Linked DNA regions of Homo sapiens. The protein of the gene in region 1 purifies or fractionates together with the protein of each later gene. This does not show direct contact. Each region holds a gene or a part of one and is shown in the gene's direction. Other genes may lie near its edges. The genes, in order: SCML2 and CCNE2.

Region 1 (3,825 bases):
AAAATTGGCTCTTTAAAGTTTTTTAATTTATATTTTTCTGAGTGCTCTTTCAAGCTGTTGCTGTGGACTCCCAGTATTGCTATTTTCTTTTTTATTAGATTCCATGGATGTCAAGAAGGAGAATCAAGAGAAAACTCCTCAGTCAAGTACATCTTCTGTACAAAGGGGTAGGTTTTAAAGTAATTTAATACAGCATAGTTTTCTTCCTCACTAGTGTTAAAATTAACTTTAAGTGCAAATTTTCTTATTGTTTTGATTTCTTATTGTACAGTCTGTATACTGTAAACTTCTGTAAATACAAAATGTAATAAGAAAGGTCAAAAATTGTATTTTATTTTGAAAATTTTACTTAGAGATAAGTTGACACGGATTAAGTAAAAGGGTAACTTTGTATATTTCAGTGCAAATTTTCCTAAATTATAGGTATCTAGTTATTAATTGCCATGTATTACCAATTTAAAATAATTTGGTTATTAGCAAAAACCCTTCTAACGTTACAGTCAATGTGAAAGCTTTTTTTTCATGGTCAGAAGACAGTTCAGTGGTTAAGAGCTTATAGGCATTGTGGTGAGTCCGACAGATGTGTTCTGGAATTCTGTCCTCACTCCTTACTGGCCATGGTGACCTTGGGCACATTACTCAACAGCTCTTAGACGTTTTTTCTTCTTCTTTCTTTGAGACAGAGTCTCGCTGTGTCACCCAGGCTGGAGTGCAGTGGTGTGATCTTGGCTCACTGCAACCTCCACCTTCCGGGTTCAAGCGATTTTTGTGCCTCAGCCTCCCGAGTAGCTGGGACTACAGGCATGCACCACCACGCCTGGCTAGTTTTTGTATTTTTAGTAGACATGGGGTTTCACTGTGCTGGCTAGGCTGGTCTCAAACCTCTGACCTCAGGTGATCCACTTGCCTCAACCTCCCAAAATGCTGGGATTACAGGCGTGAGCCACTGTGCCCGGCTCTTTTTTCTTCTTTATAACACAGGGATAATGATAGTACTTATCTCATGGCACTACTGGAAATAAATAGAGGAAATGAATTTAAAGCACCTAATATAATGCCTAGGCATATAGTAAGTGTTCAGTAAATGTTAACTTTATTAATTCATGTTCCTTATTATGAACAGTACATGTATAATATTGCATCAGAGACACTCAGGAGATGTAATAGAATCTGATGCATTGGCTTGCTCTTAAATGAGAAAATAAGTCATATGTACACAAAAGGCATTAAAAAATAACGTAGCAAACTATTGTTTTACCAGACATTTCCAGAGATTTCTTGCCCCTTGTGTTTCTGTTGTATCTGCCCTGCCAGCCCCAGTGCAGAGCAGTTCACCCTATGACCTTCTGTTCCTACTTGAAGATTGCCTATAGAGGTAATCCCCACGGAATTGTTGTTCTCTCACTGTAGCTGGGCCCTCAGTGCTCCCTTAACTTTCTTTACCATGGCCTTATTTGTTCTTCAACTCTTCCCTGGGACCCCCAAATCCTCTGAGGAAATGGAGGCCATTGAATTAGACTGTTCCTTATCCCTACAAACTCCTCTCCATCTGTTTTTAAAAATATAACAGCTTTACTGAGTTATAATTCAAATATCATATAATTCACCTATTTAGAGTGCACAATTCAATGGTTTTCAGTATGTTCACAGAGTTGTGCAACCACCACCACAGTCAATTTTAGAACATTTTTATCCCCCTAAAAAGAAATCCTGTACCCATTAACAGTACTCCCCATTTCTCCCTAGTGCCTCCTGTCTCCCCCAGCTCTAGGCAAACACAGGTCTACTTTCTGCCTCTATAGATTTTCCCATTCTAGACATTTAATTAAAAAAATAGATTACTTAAGTTGATAGCCATCTGCAGATACTTCTCAGGCCTGGGCCCTAACATCCTATTTTAGAAATCAGTGAGTGACTACCAGAAGGTAAGCTCCAAGAGAGCCAGGGTTTTAATCTGTTTTATTAACTCATGCATCTGCAGTACCTAGGACAGTGCCTGGCACATGCTGATGACCTGCTATGGGAATCCAGTTACGAACAATATAGACATGATTCCTGCCCTCTTTTATTGACTGACTGATTGAGACAAGGTTTTACTCTGTCATGCAGGCCAGAGTGCAGTGGCATGATCATGGCTCATTGCAGCTTTGACCTTCTGGTCTCAAGTGATCCTCTCACTTCAGCCTCCCGAGTATGTGGGACCACAGGCGTGCACTACCATGCCTGGCAATTTTTAACAATTTTTTGTAGAGACGGGGTCTCTCTGTGTTTCCCAGGCTGGTATTGAACTCCTGGGCTCAAGCGATCTGCCCGCCTCAGCCTCCCAAAGTGCTGGTATTACAGGTGTGAGCCACTGCACCCAGCCTCTTACCCTCTTTGAGCTTAGTGGGCAAGATAGAAATTAACAGATGCCTAATTGTAGTTGTGATAAATGCTGTGAATTAGTGGATGCTGATCATTCAGCTGAGAAACTTCTATCTCTAGGTATTTTGCCCATCTTCACATAGCAAGGGATCCCAAGGATAGCACTGGTGGAAGACATGATTCTGATTTACTCTAGAGAAGACCAGGGGAGCTCATATGGGTTATATTCAGTACAAAAAGATGTTGGAGCTAATGTGTAGACTAGAATAGAGTACAAATAAAAAAAGAAGAGACCATGGGCACATGTGAATAACAATCAGATCACAAGGAGATATATATATAAAATCATATCAGTTCCCAGGCCTCTCTTCTGAGATAGAATACTGCCCCCATCCCCAGTCTGTCAATGAAGACATGATGCAGAGGCAGACTGGGACCTCAGGCTTAACTAAGACTTTCTGACTATTTTGGCTTCTGGTTGGGAATTCCAATGGTGGTATTGACGTAGATGTGTCAAGTCTAAATTAGTAAAGCCTGGAGCTTTGTGTGTTTCCCCTATGTTATGAACACGTGGGCAGCCAAGATGAACAGTTTTATCAAGATGATTAAGAATTTTGCCTTATGGAAAAAGGGGAAAAGAAAACAAACAAAAACCAACGAACCTGAGGCTCCAAATGGCAAATGCTGCATATGGTCATTAACCAGTAATTTGATAGAAAATTATATTGTAGAGCACTAGTATAAAGGATTTGCTAGCTCAGATTGTAGCCCATTCAGACACAAATGGTAATAGAATATTTTAAAAATTTGTGTTATGGAGATGAATTAAGTATTTTCTAATATTACTGAAAAATTTTACAAATGTCATTGGTTTATGGAAGAGTGTTAGTTCTTTGGGTATTCATTTCCTGCTTGTTATTTCTGACTTACACTATTTTCCTCCAGGGTGTCAACTTCTTAATGACATCCATCCATCCCAACTAAATGTTTTGTTTTGTTCTTTTTTTGTTGTTGTTGTTGAGACGGAGTCTCCCCCTGGTTGCCCAGGCTGGAGTGCAGTGGCGCGATCTTGGCTCACTGCAACCTTCGCCTCCACCTTCCGGGTTCAAGCGATTCTCCTGCCTCAGCCTCCCAAGTAGCTGGGAGGCACCCGCCACGATGCCCAGCAATTTTTTTTTTTTTAGTAGAAACGGGGTTTCGCCATGTTGGCCAGGCTGGTCTGGAACTCCTGACCTCAGGTGATCTGCCCACCTCGGCCTCCCAAGTGCTGGGATTACAGGAGTGAGCCACTGCGCCTCGCCCGTTTTGTTCTTTTTTAATGCTCTCCAAGATCATATGGTAGTAGAGCTTCACTTAGAATCTGTAGTGCTAGGGGGCAATCACTGAAACATCTGGTCTGTTTAATTTTGAAGCCGTGGATTTCGGTTTTCACTTTTGACAAAGCTATTCTGTATTAATAAA
Region 2 (3,825 bases), on another chromosome or scaffold:
TGACTGTGATCACATGCCTTATGTGTTTAACTTTTTTGTATTGCTCTTGAGAAAACATTTTTTTTCACTTTTAATTGCATTTATTTTAGTGCTGAATTTACTCCTGTGCCATAAGTTTTTGTTTCTTCAGTTTCTTCTGGGATATCTTTTTCTTCTGGGCAACCGCCTCTTCTGGTTTAGGAACAATTTGTTCCTTTTCACTAAAGATCATTTCGATGTGGCAGGGAGAGATCACGTGTGAGTTAATCCGACCATGAGCTCTGTAGGTCCGTTGGCACATCGTAGGTGCTTTGTTCACTTGGAGATGCTCAATGACCAGAGAATCTACATCTAAACTCTTAAGTTCAGCATTACTCTCTGCATTTTTAAGCATGTGCAGCAAAAATTCAGCACTCTTTTTGGGCCACCAACCTTGTGTCCAGTCCCACTGCTTGGCCTGGGTACACCTACCAACTCCACCATTGTAATGTCAGAATGGCACATGCTGTTTCTGTAAAGTGACATTTTAAAAATACTTCATGGTGTTTTTTTTTTTTTTTTTTTTTGGAGACAGAGGTTTGCTGTTGTTGCCCAGGCTGGAGTGCAGTGGCACGATCTCGGCTCACTGCAACCTCCACCTCCTGGGTGCAAGTGATTCTCCTGCCTCAGCCTCCTGAGTAGCTGGGATTACAAGCATGCCACCACGCCCAGCTAATTTTTTGTATTTTTAGTGGAGACGGGGTTTCACCATGTTGGCCAGGCTGGTCTCGAACTCCTGACCTTAAGTGATCCACCCACCTTGGCCTCCCAAAGTGCAGGGATTACAGGTGTGAGCCACTGTGCCGGCCACTTTGTGGTTTTTCATATATGCATACCCTTGATAGCCTGGGCAGTTTCACGAGTGTTCTTACAGTGAACACAAAGATTTGAACCTCTTGATTTGCATGATTTTGTGGGGTTTTCCAGGTAAAGTGAATAGCCAGCTATTTTCACAGATTACTTCAGACCACTTATGGGAAAAGCAACGTGGTTATCTTTTAACAGCAACCTTTGTAAAGTATAAATAAGTGGAACTAGAAAGCACTCCCTTGAAATCTGCAGGTTTGGATGATCATAGTCCAGGTTCCCACTGTGTTACTTCAGGCTTCTATTTATTCATGCAAAGGAAATTGTTTCCAAAAATTAAGGCAGAAGTTTTTTTTCTTATTTACTTTAAGAGCTTCTTCCAAGTTCTAATTAAAAGTTGCATTTCAATGTCTGAAAGTTGAATTTTATCTATGTGAAACAGAGTTTGTATATTACATGGATTGCACAATTTAAATTATGTTTTTTAGCCGGGCATGGTGGGTCACGCCTGTAATCCCAGCACTTTGAGAGGCTGAGGCAGGTCGATCACTTGAGGCCAGGAGTTCGAGACTAGCCCAGCCAACATGGTGAAACCCCATCTCTACTAAAAATACAAAAACTAGCCAGGCTTGGTGGCAGGCACCTGTAACTCCCAGCTACTTGGGAGGCTGAGGCACAAGAATCGCTTGAACCCAGGAGGTGGAGATTACAGTGAGCCAAGATTGTGCCGCTGCACTCTAGCCTGGGCCACAGAGCGAGACTCTGTCTCAAAAAAAAAAAAAAAAAAATATATATATATATATATGGTTTTTTTCCTCTCTTTCCATAGCTGGGGATGTTCAAAAGAAGTCTGGCTAAACATGTTAAAAAAGGAGAGCAGATATGTTCATGACAAACATTTTGAAGTTCTGCATTCTGACTTGGAACCACAGATGAGGTCCATACTTCTAGACTGGCTTTTAGAGGTATGTTACAGCAATACAAATTTCCTTTGTCTCTGTATGATGGAAACATATTTAGCTGTAAATGTGCTTTCTATGTACTCTCAAGAGTTTATTGTTCATCCCCAGGAAGCTGTCTTTTTTGAGGTACTTACTGTAGTTGATTGCACCCAAAGTGGAAAGTGACTCTATAAGAGTAAAACCATGACAAAGCTACTACATATAACTAAACCCAATTCAGAATTCCTGTTACCTGTGGATACTGCTGTGTACCAACCACTTTCTGGGTGCCACAGATACTCAAGGTGAATGGAATGTATAGTTGATTAGGTTTTGAATTATGCTATACAAAGTGAAGAACTAGAACTAGGCTTCAGGGCCCTCTGAAGTCTTTTTCTGTATTAACAAAATCATGATGATGAGGAATCCTGATTTCTATATCCTAAACCATAATGAGACTATGGATATCTGGAAGCTCTACGCCCTCTATTGTCCAGATACCTTCTCTTTATTATATTCTTCTATTCTTTTCCGAAATATACCATTAATTTAAAGGAATAGTGATCCTGAAGCCCCTATAGATTTGTGCCAGATTTTTCTCTCTTGTTTAGGTCCATTCCCTTTCCTCTGGATAATAGCTCTAAAAAAGTTTCTAAAATTATTATTAAGGAAATCATTACTTATGTTGATGACAAACTGATTTTTCCTCCAACTCTTGGATATTTGCTCTGTAGTCTGTCTTTAAGACAAGAGATGAAGCATTCTAAGGGAAAAAGACCATAGACTTTTTGGAGGAGGAACACATGGCAGAATAGATCTCAGAAGCTATCAGAACAGTTTTTAAGACTAAAATGTTATCCTTTTGCATCAGGTCATCTTTTTCCTTATTCTGACTAGAAGGAAAGATTGTATTTTAATTGTGGGCACAAGAAGGCATTGGGTTTTGACTTTTTCTGACTGTCTAGTGATCATGGAATCAACTTAAGCACAATTATGTTAATTTTTAATTTGTTTCCTTTTTGTTATACTGATATTCATCCAGTGGTTATCCAATTCAATTTGTTCCTGTTTTTACCTAAATATGATTATGTATGCAACAGCATACAGAATATATCAAATCCAGCAGTGTTAAACTCTATCTTAGTGTATTCTTCAGTCTAGGAATGCAAACTTGATTCAACATTTGAAAATCTATTAATTTATTACCTTAACAGTAAATAAGAAAAATGCTAAGATCTCAATAGATGCAAAAGACATTTTTTGAAATTCGACATTCTTTTTTTTTTTTTTGAGACGGAGCCTCGCTGTTGTCACCCAGGCCAGAATGGAATGGCACGATCTCAGCTCACTGCAACCTCTGCATCTCGCGTTCAAGCGACTCTCTTGTCTCAGCCACCCACATAGCTGGGATTACAGGCGCAGGCCACCACACCTGCTATATTTTGTATTTTTAATAGAGATGCGGTTTCACCCTATTGGCCAAGCTGGTCTTGAACTCCTGACCTCAAGTGATCCGCCCGCCTTGGCCTCCCAAAGTGCTGGGATTACAGATGTGAGCCACCGCACTCGGCCAGCAAAAGAGATTTTCTTAACTCATTATTAGAAACTCATGTGGCCAGGTGTGATGGCTCATACCTGTAATGCCAGCACTTTGGGAGACTGAGGCAGGCAGATCAGTTGAAGCCAGGAGTTTGAGACCAGCCTGGCCAACATGGCAAAATCCCATCTCTACTAAAAATACAAAAAATTAGCTGGGCATGGTGGCACACACCTGTAATCTCAGCTACTCAGGAGGCTGAGGTAGGAGAATCGCCTGAACCTGGGAGGCAGAGGTTGCAGTGAGCCACTGCACTCCAGCCTGGGTGACAAAGTGAGACCCTGTCAAAAAAAAAAAAAACTCTGGTATATATCTCTATTTCCTCACCTCCAAAATGGGGATAATGGTACCTACTTACGGAGTTACTGTGAGAATTAAAATCTTTCCCTAAAAGTGTAGAAATGACAGATACTATTTATTATTAATAACAATAGTGAAACATCAGGGCAATTCCTATTAAAG

Evidence for each region.
Region 2: the proteins of SCML2 (region 1) and CCNE2 purify together in Homo sapiens (pull-down; one study listed by IntAct). This does not show direct contact.

What each region holds. Positions count from the first base shown.
Region 1 is NC_000023.11:18,326,929-18,330,753, reverse strand, and holds part of SCML2 (sex comb on midleg-like protein 2), read left to right. Parts: intron 1-98; coding exon 99-167; intron 168-3,825. UniProt on the Homo sapiens protein: Putative Polycomb group (PcG) protein. PcG proteins act by forming multiprotein complexes, which are required to maintain the transcriptionally repressive state of homeotic genes throughout development.
Region 2 is NC_000008.11:94,888,380-94,892,204, reverse strand, and holds part of CCNE2 (G1/S-specific cyclin-E2), read left to right. Parts: intron 1-1,654; coding exon 1,655-1,790; intron 1,791-3,825. UniProt on the Homo sapiens protein: Essential for the control of the cell cycle at the late G1 and early S phase.